Homo sapiens: one gene and its partners. The protein of the gene in region 2 interacts with the protein of the main gene of each other region in a pairwise test. Each region holds a gene or a part of one and is shown on either strand. Other genes may lie near its edges.

Region 1 (3,500 bases), on a different chromosome or scaffold from region 2:
ATAAACTGAAAAGCAGAAAGGAAAACTGGCATTCTAGGCTCTTAACCATCTGGTGCTAACGGACTCTTTCTTGCCTAGCTCTTTCACTACTCATTTTTCCCTGTCTATGCTTGTATGCCTTTGATCACCCTGGCCCCTGGCCCAGAAAGGCCTTTCTCTCATACTAGTTGTCCTATTTCCACATGTCCAAATCCTACCCATTCTTCAAAGCATAGTTCAGGGGCCGGGCGTGGTGGCTCACAACTGTAATCCCAGCACTTTGGGAGGCCGAGGCAGGAGGACAGTTTCAGTCCAGAAGTTCAAGAACAGCCTGGGCAACATAATGAGACCCCGTCTCTACAAGTAATGAAAAATTAGCCAAGCATGTTGGTGTGTGCCTATATAGTCCCAGCCACTTGGGGGCTGAGGCAGAAGAACTGTTAGAGGCCAGGAAATCAAGGATGCAGTGAGCTGTGATGGCACCACAGCACTCAGTTTGAGTAACGGGAGTGAGATGCTGTCTCCAAATTAAAAAAAAAAAAAAAAGTAGTTCAAATGTCACCTCTTCTTTTATCCTTAAAACTAAAAGTAGACCGGGCACGGTGGCTCACGCCTGTAATCCCAGCACTTTGGGAGGCTGAGGCGGATGGATCACCTGAGGTCAGAAGTTCAAAACCAGCCGGGCCAACATGGCGAAACCCCGTCTGTACTAAAAATACAAAAATTAGCCTGGTGTGGCAGTTGGCGCCTGTAATCCCAGCTACTCAGGGAGGCTGACGCAGGAGAATCACTTGAACCTGGGAGGCAGAGGTTGCAGTGAGCCGAGATTGTACCACTGTACTCCAGCCTGGGTCAAAAACGAAAAACAAACAAACAAACAAAAATAAAAGTAATCTCTCCCTCCTCTCTAAACTCTTATAGTTCCTTATCTTTATCTTTTTACCACCCATTACTTTCTGCCTTTCATTATCACTGTTGTTTCCATATTTAATCCCCCACCTAAGCATAAAGTCCTCAGGGTCAAGGTCCATCTTTATTCAAACTGATTAACACAATCCCTTATACACACTAAGTGAGGTTAGGAAAGAAGCCCACCAGAAACAACTCCAGATTGAGTCCAGAGCCCTGGCTTTGCTAATAACTCACTATCTGACCTTGGCCTTGAGGCTCTTAGTATGTTCCTTCACTTACAAAGTTAAGAGGGTAGGCTAAACTAGTTGTATTTGTTGTTAAATGTAGGCTATAATCCATTAGCTGGGTGTAAAATTAATTTGGAAGTCAAAACCCAGCATTTTTAAAATGAAATGAAATAACAGAATATATCAATGTGTGTTATAAGCAGTGGGGTGCTATAAATGTTTAACAACTACCTATGAGGAGGGAAGCCCTAAGAATACCATTTGCTGAATTTCCTGGTGTAAATATTCCCACCATGACCAATTTTGAGCTACCAACATGATGTCACTGGACAAAGAGCTAGATAGGAAGAAATATGCACAACTGGTCTTGCAAGCCATTATAGCTAACTCAGTAGGGCCCTGAAAAGATAAATATTATTTCACCAAACTTTCAACTTTGTGTGTGTGTGCGCTTGCGGAATCAAGTAGTAAAATGTATTTTTTATTGTGGGTCACAGTCAAATGAGTTTAATAAATGTTCAGGTAAACAATCTCCTGGTGTCCTTCATGTATACTACATAATTTGATAAATCTTACTCTTGGTTACAGATGTCTCTTCACCACAATTCATATTTTTCTTCAAAAATGGGAGTAACAAACTGATATCACCAGAAGGCAAATTACACAGAGCAGGAATTTGGTTTATGGAATATCAGCCAAGTGCCAAGGTTTTTAGCATTTGTTCAGCCCTACATACCTGAAGGATATAACACACTCCTACTATCAATGGCTCACTTAGCAATGGGTTGGGGGGCAGGTAGGGGGTAAGAGGAGGAAATCCATAGTATAAAAAAAAAATCCAGATAATTCTAGTATTTGTGCTCATGTTCCCACCCCACTGAATACCCAGATACACAGAAAATTAGAGCAGTAAAAAGTAAATGTTCCATGCCTGATGTTTCCCAATCAAATTCCCTTGCATCCCTCAATGAGACTTCCATTACTAAGAATCACCTACTGGAACTAAGCTTTTACCATGGACTAGGGATGCATAGTTCTTGCTGAATTTAGAACAGGCAACAGGGAAAATAACACAGCAAACAGTTGTTAGGCTTCATATTCTGGGAAAATCAGCCTTTTATTAAAAAAAAAAACTGTCTTATTTTCCTCTTATTTAAGCTTACTAAACTGGGTGAGAATTTTCTTAAATATATTTTTGGCTGTACTATGTCTATCACAACACAGCCTGTAACCAGATTTTTCATGAGTATTTATAAAGAATTGTGTTGTTGTTGGGTTTTTTTTTTTTTTAAGCCCAACAGCACTGGCAAATGTTTTCTACTTTAAAAGCTATTTAGAAAATAAGAAGGCTCAGAATTTCAAGTATACTAATAATCTTAGCCCAAATCTAACTCTAAATCAACTGAATATATGCCTAGAACTTTCCCAGGAAAATCCCCAAAAAGTACACCAAAAAACACCAAAAGATAACAAAAAAGAGTTAGCATGCGCATAAACTTCGTATACCCAATTATGCCATCCCATCTGTTGAATAAGAGCAATATGGGAAGTAAACGAAGTATAAAAAGAAGATGTTCAGAGATGCAAGCTCTTCTTAATTCATTAACTCTTCCTTATTAGGGTCCACTGATGTTCACATACTTATACCCAATTCAAATACTGACTATAAAGTCAAAATTATTTCCCGTTCTGAAAGTCTAGGAGTCAAACAATGTCTTTCTCTATAATATCAGCATTAAAACTCTCCTTTAAAAATGAGTATGTTTTACCATAACTCAGGCTCAAGTCCGTACTTTCTCCGCCTCCACTGTTTGTAATGGCAAAATGCTCATCAGATCATCTCCACAAGAAACCCCTGAGCCATCTTTGAAATACCAGCACCTGGTGCGCTGCACCCACTAACTCATCATCTAGCATTAGGTATATCTCCCAATGCTATCCCTCCCCCCTCCCCCCTCCCCACCACAGTCCCCAGAGTGTGATATTCCCCTTCCTGTGTCCATGTGATCTCATTGTTCAATTCCCAGCATGGCACATGTATACATATGTAACTAACCTGCACAATGTGCACATGTACCCTAAAACTTAAAGTATAATTAAAAAAAAAAAAAAAAAAAAAAAAAACAGAAAGAGAAAAAAAAAAAAAAAGAAATACCAGCACCTGGAATAGCCTTGGGCTGCTGGTCATCCTCAGACTCAACGGCTGACCCATTTATATAAGTCAAGAGTTATAAAAATATAGAACTCATTAAAATTAAGACATAAGCAAGCTCTGTGCCTGGGAATCCCATAGGCTTACAGCAACAACTTCATTCTCCAAACCCCCTCTAACCAGTCATAATGATCCATACCCCACTTGAAGACAATGGTAGGTTGGAATGC
Region 2 (3,500 bases):
TTTTGTATTTTTAGTAGAGATGGGGTTTCACCGTGTTAGCCAGGATGGTCTCAATCTCCTGACCTTGTGATCCGCCCACCTCGGCCTCCCAAAGTGCTGGGATTACAGGCTTGAGCCACCGCACCCGACCACTCTCACTTCTGAAACTTCCTGTGTGAAAGAGACAGTCTCCTAGAGAGTTCCCAGAATTCCTGGACTCAGCTGTAACCTGAGAAAGAAAACCAAACACCTGAGTCCTAAAACAGACTTGCCATCCAGTTTCCCGTCTGAGGTCAGAAGGTGTCTAACTGAGGCTGTAAAAGCAGCTCAGTGGAGGTGACAGGAGTTTGAGACATGCCCATTTCTAGCCAAGTTCTTACTGCTTGAGGAGTGATGAAGCCTTGGTCAATGCTGGGTTCCTAGCCACAGATAACTCAAGCTCAGCAATTAAAAAAGTCATGCTTACTACTTAAAAGGATGTCAGTGGAGACATCTGTCGAATTCCAGAAGCCTCACCACGTTCCTATAGCTTACACTTTATTCACAGACTCCAGCACTAACATTCCTGAGCTCTGAAATGCAGTTTTTCTGATGAAATGGACGGTGCATTTTTAGAAATATTCTTAATACATGCTTTAAATTACCTGATTTTGCATTCACACCTAATGAGATCACAGACGTTTTAGGACTAATAGCAGTGCTGGGTTTGAAAAGGCAGCAGTGGGGACATTATGAAAAATTCAGCACTGCTCCCCAAATGTGAATAAAATAGATGTTCATCTGACGAGTGTCCTTTATAGCTCTATTTTTGCTCCTTTTGCATTTCCCCTGTTCAGTCGTCAGTAAATTTCTCTTTACCATATTAAACTTTTATACATACAAATCTACATCAGTGCTGCAGGCACTGATTTCGATTTTGCAAATTGAATTTTGGGTGGTGACAGCAATTGGTACAGCGGCCCCTATTCTAGTCACACAAAGGGACGCATAAGCACTTTTGGGAAAGGGTGTTGCAAATTGCTTTGCTAATTAAGGTAGAGCTGGATTCGGTCCAGGAGGATCTATAAAAAAAGGTTTTCAAGACTTGGTAATGAACTTCTGAAATGAGTTCATTCTGTTATGGGAGCCTATTCCCTTCAATTGAGTTGAAAATGTATTTCTTGAGCACCTACTATAGAAAGAGTGCTCCACTAGGGGACGGTGAGGGGCCACAAAGACGACGACCCAGGCCAGCTGTGGAGAAGCTGGCAGGCACACTACAGAGACAAGATACACATGAATTAGAAACCAACCCTGCCCGGGGCAATGTGTAAGTGAGAGCCAGATCTGCGGAGCACGGGCCGCTGCACGAGACCCGAGGTGGGAGTTGGGCACCTGGCTGTGCTGATGGGGAGGTGTGGCAGGAAAGGGCTGAGTTTCACTGCAGCGACAGTGCAGAGAGTGAGGAGTGCCAACCTGGGCATGAGTGACACAGGGACCAGAAATGACTGGGAGGATGAGGCATGAAGAGGCACAGGACAAGAGTGTTTTAGGCAGACAGGGCTTTTAAGGGGAACCCAGGGAGGGCTCCAAGAGCCTGGGAAGCCACCAAATTCTTGACAAACTCTGTGTTTGGGTTTTTTGCGGTTGTAGGGGTGCAGTGATCCACAGCGCACTTAAGTCTCAAAGGATCAGAATTGCTTGTACCATGGCCAGTTTGGGAGACCATGAGAAGACACCCTTGCTGAGCCTGGGGCTCATGTTAGGGTGGTGCGAGGCAAGGTTGGAAACACAGGCTGGGACCAAGGATCAGAGGCACTGCAGGTCTCACAAAGTTGCCTGCCACCTGCCCAGGAGGCAATGGGCAGACCCCAAACATCTTTGAATAAAGTAGTGACCCACCAGAAGTGGCCAAGAATTTATCCCTTCAGGTGGAGCACTGCAGCTTTACATATGCAGAGATAAACGCCACCCCTTGGTGTGAATACTACCCTAGCTCACACTGGCGCCATTCAGAATTGGGAGAGAAAAAAAGATGGAGATGTTTGTATTCCCTCTTAGAGATGATTCTCCTTACAACTCCAGGTTTTCGATGGGCTCAATACATAATTAAAAATAGGATAATCTGTTCTTAGGACACTCTTCAAAAGCATAACTTCAGGGGGCCCACAAGTGGGGGTGAGCAACGTTGAGATGGCTTCACCGTGGCCAGCATATGCCAGGTGGCTTGGGAGCTAGCTCCCTGCCACACTGAGGAATGCCAAGGACCAGGCCTCAAATGGATGACTGAGAAAACAGAATCAAAAAAACCTTTGAATTCTCCTCTGAGAAGGTGGAAATACCATTTACCTTATTAGAAACCCAAGAAAAAGTTTAACTTCTTTCAAACTGGGCCAATATTATTATACTTAAACTTGCATACAATACAGTTAGAACTCCCTGGTGGGCGAAGAGCAGCAGCTCTTCTAGGACGCCCCTCGGAGTTGCACCTTGTGCTACATAAGTGGGTGCTGGTGTGCAGTCCGGGATCTTTTAGGAAGCACCTAATGAACTCATTAGAAAGATCTGCTCCTTTCTCTGTTGTTAGGTCAACAATTACATTTGTTGTGCCACCTTCCCCCACGTTGCAATTCTTTTATTAAGCTCTCAGCGCTGTAGGAAACACGTGTTCTTAGACAAACTGTATTCAAAATTGGCAAAGCCCATAAACACTGACTTTTTAAAACTACACAATAGGATATGGGGTGTAAGAGGAGTTACATGTGTTCCCGCTCCCACCACCACCTCCCCACTTGGTGGGTTTAGGGTGGACCACAAGACTCCCCAGAGGGCAATTTGAGGTGGAATAAATGGAGGCAGTGGTTTTTGTACTCTGGTTTTGTGTATGAATTATTGATTTGCCCTTTAGTTAACCCAGCTTTTCTCCGCCTGGTGTCCCACCCAGGACCATCTTTCTTCCCATCTGGACTGGTAGTGGCTGGGGCAAAGAATAGGTGGGTAAACACAGGGAGTTCCATTTGCTGCCCAAACTATCTATGGCCCAAAAAGGTTTGAACGGGCAACCAGGGGAAGGAAGTGGTTTGACGTTCATGGAATAAGAGGTTGTTCTAACAATAACTTGGAACAGCAGCTGAGGAAAGGCCAGGCACCCAGGAGACGATGCACACTAGGGCCAGAGGGGCTGGGTCTGTTTCTCACTTGGCTTGTCTCTTATGGCTACGGAACCCCCAGTGCGTTGTCTTGTTTTTCTGATGTTTCCTCATCTGTAAAATGGGAACAGTAATGGCTACCACTCAGCTGTACTAAGGATTAAATGAGATCACGCCGGCAAAGGTGCACTGTGCACCTTTCAGGGTGATCATTAGGACGAAGGAAGCCAAGAGGCTGAGAGGAGGACTGACTGCCTCTCTCCTCTACGGAAATGGAAAGACGGCATGAGCAGAGCTACTTTCCCCTCCAGTTCTGTCTTCTGGCAACCGGCTTAACCAAGGAGGAGCTCCATACTAGTCAGTCAACTGGATCTAAGCCCCACCTCCTGCTGC
Region 3 (3,500 bases), on a different chromosome or scaffold from region 2:
TTTATCTTTCTATCCTAGAAAGACACTCAATGACTTCTGTGGTAGGCATTCACATCTGTTGGACCAAGTTGAATTACACTTCTTATACTGTAGGATTGAAACCATGGCTAATTTATTAGCAGTGTCCCTTTGAACAAATTACATCTTGGGGGCTCAGCTTTCTCTTCTCCAACCTGGATGATAAAAAATATTGCTAATGAGCATGAGCATGTACAGTGGACCCTTGGACATCATGGGTTTGAATGGTGTGGATCCACTTTTGTGTGAATTTCTTTCTTCCTTTTTTTTGAGACAGGGTCTTGCTCTGATGCCCAGGCTGGGGAACAGCGGTGTGATCATAGCTCATTGCACCCTTGACTGCCTGGGCTCAACTGAGCCTCCCATCTCAGCCTCCTAAATAGCTAAGACCACAGGTGCATGCCACCATGCCTGGCTAATTTTTCTATTTTTTGTATAGATGAGATCTCACTATGTTGCCCAGGCTGGTCTCAAACTCCTGGGCTCAAGCAGTCCTCCCTCCTCAGCCTCCCAAAATGCTGAGATTACAGGCATGTGCCATTGTACCTGGCCAGGATTTTTTTTCAATAAATACACTGGAAAATGCTTTGGAGATTTGCAACAATTAAGACAAACTTGCAGATGAATGTGTTACTTAGAAATATTGAGAAAATTTAGAAAAAATTAGGCATGTCATGAATGGATAAAATATATGTAGATACTAGTCTAGTCTATTATTTACTATCATAAAATACATATAAATCTACTATGAAAAGTTAAAATTGATGAGACTTAAACAAATATAGACCATACATGGGCCTATTTGCAGTTGAGAGAAATGTAAAGGTGAAGTATTAAATCATAATTGTATAAAATTAACTGTAGTCCATACTGTACTACTCTAATAATTTCATAGCCACCTCCTATTATTGTGGTGAACTCAAGTGTTGTGAGCATCCGTTTAAAATGCTCTGTGATACTAATCATCCTCACCATCTCTCCAGTAAATTGCATAGTGCAGTAAAAAGTGATCTCTTGCAGTTTCACATTTAAAAAAAATCATGTTTAGTGCAATACTGTAAACCTTGAATAACATCATGCACCCATACAAAGTGCCACCAGTGATGCTAGCAGTGCTCCCAAAAAGCAAAAAAAAGTCACGACATTTCAAGAAAAAGTTGAATTGCTTAATGTGTACTGAAGATTTCAGACTGATGATTCATCTTGTAAACAAATGATATAAACTGATGGTATCAATAAATACAGCATAGTATTATAAATGTATTTTATCTTCCTTATGATTTTCTTAATAACATTTTCTTTTCTCCAGCTTACTTTATCATACGAATACAGTAAATAATACATAAAACATAGATGTTAATGGACTTTTTATGTCATTAAGGCTTCCAGTCAACAGTAGGCTACTAGTAGTTAAATTTTGGGGGAGTCAAAAAATTTTCAGCTGCATGGGGGTTGACACCCTAAATCTCCATGTTGTTCAAGGGTCAACTGTACTTTGTTCCACTCATTAAACTTTGACAACATCAAGATTAACAATATCAACTATAAAGTGTGTACTATTATTAGCTCACTTTTCCAAATGAGAAAAGCAGTCAGAAACGATCTGGGGAATTTGTCTGAAGTCTTAGTACTAATAAATGGAGAAACCAGAGTCTGAATGCTAGCAACCTGGAGTCAGAGTCCACACTATTCATCACTTACTATTCAATTTGCTGAGATCAAATGAGTTTATACACATAATGTGCTTGGAATAATGTTTTGCAAAACGAAGGGCTCATTAGTTTATCTTGCAATTATTGTTACCGTATGAGAACTTGGCTTGCTTCTGGGATGCTTAATAGTTTTTAAGTTGCATTTCTGAAGATTCATTTCTATGAGTTTAATAACTGTCTTTTCTTTAACAGATGCACATTTACTATGATTTTGTAACTGGCTGGCTTTAATCTCTTGGTTGATCTCTTTACTGCTTGGGTTATGTTTGCTGTATATGCAGCATGAAACCTAGGGCTGCTACCAGCATAAATCTTTAAATTCCAGAAAATGAATGATTCCCATCACCACTGAGAAAAATGCATCAGCAACCAGAGGTGAAGACAACGATTCTATGGAGGCTTTTCTTTTGTCCTTCCCTGACTGGTAATGCTGTCTATCCTTCTACAGCCTGGGAAGAAGAGGAGGAGGCTGCCAGGCAGTGTGGGGAAACCAAACTGTTTTTCTCTCAACCAGTATCACTCAATGATTACCAGCTTTGTACCTATTGTGGTGCTGTACTTCCCAATTTTTATTGAGCTGAGTCTTCTGTATTCAGTTCATATCGTGAATTCTCAGGACATTAGAATTATCCATGTTCAAATAGAAATTTGCAAAGTTAAAACAAACATATTTCCAGATTAATCATAACTTTGAATACCTGGCAATGGTTCTCTGTCATCTGTTTGGATAATTGACACTTGTCTTTTAAAATCAGTATTTACATAGTAAGATAGGGCATTGATTTTGATTGTTTTGAACTACAGACTCACATTTTTGACCTCAGGTTTCTCAATTGGAAAATGGATAATCTCACCAATTTTACTTGGTTCTTAAGCCCTCCCTTTCCAGCTACAAATGGTATCAGAAATAATGACACTTCAGTGCAAAGGAAAGTTACAGGATCAGAGCAATGTGAAATGTTCCTGTAGATTGAATTATTATGTTGCCAGACTAAATGCTCTGAAAAGCTCAAATGAGAAAAATAATTCATTTTAAAATGATGGCATTCCTGAGCGCAAACATTCTAGGATCTCCTGTACAAGAATGCACTGAGGGGCCTTCACCTGGGGATATTTGAAGTAGAGCATGAGGTTACTCTGTATATCCTTAAAGGATCTGGGAGGAGCTGAAACAGACTTATGTTCAATGAGCATCTGTGATTTCCACCTAACTTACTTCTGAAGCATATGAAAATTCCACCCCATGCAATATTTGACACAGAAAGTACTGCCCCTTTATTATATAAAAGAATTAGCTTCTTTTAAAAAAAAAAAAAAGTCTGGAATCTCCTTGTAGATGTCTTCCTGGTATTTGGAGAATGCCCCTATGATCACCCTACTTATATGCTGTAGGACTTTATTTATGATGGCTGTCCCATTCCAATTTTTATATTTCTATTTAGAAAATTCTAAATTTGCTGGAGTGCCCAACATATGTTACATGTTTGTCCTTGTGAGAAGGCCAGGATGACCACCAAAGAGCCAGTAAAAGTTTAGAAGGAGCTGTTCAGCCCATCTTCTGAACGCTCCGGGAATCTCTTCAACTTCAGACCATGCCAGGTGACTTTTAGAACCCAGTTCATACTTCCAGCCTGTTCTGATCCTAGGTTTGAACAGTTCTCTTACTATCCTTCAGGTGAGGCAATCAGGTCACAGAGCTGGTGAATGGCAAAACCCTGTTAGAACTCAAAGTCTTAGCTCTCAAATGCTGTGTTTTCTCACTGATAGAAG

Evidence for each region. The genes of interacting proteins can lie anywhere in the genome.
Region 1: the proteins of UQCC2 (region 2) and RABGAP1L interact in a two-hybrid assay, tested with the Homo sapiens proteins (one large-scale study listed by BioGRID and IntAct).
Region 3: the proteins of UQCC2 (region 2) and SNAP25 interact in a two-hybrid assay, tested with the Homo sapiens proteins (one large-scale study listed by BioGRID and IntAct).

The regions. Positions count from the first base shown.
Region 1 is NC_000001.11:174,162,520-174,166,019, reverse strand, and holds part of RABGAP1L (rab GTPase-activating protein 1-like), read right to left. Parts: intron 1-3,500. UniProt on the Homo sapiens protein: GTP-hydrolysis activating protein (GAP) for small GTPase RAB22A, converting active RAB22A-GTP to the inactive form RAB22A-GDP. Plays a role in endocytosis and intracellular protein transport.
Region 2 is NC_000006.12:33,705,201-33,708,700, forward strand, and holds part of UQCC2 (ubiquinol-cytochrome c reductase complex assembly factor 2), read right to left. Parts: intron 1-3,500.
Region 3 is NC_000020.11:10,302,330-10,305,829, reverse strand, and holds part of SNAP25 (synaptosomal-associated protein 25), read right to left. Parts: intron 1-3,500.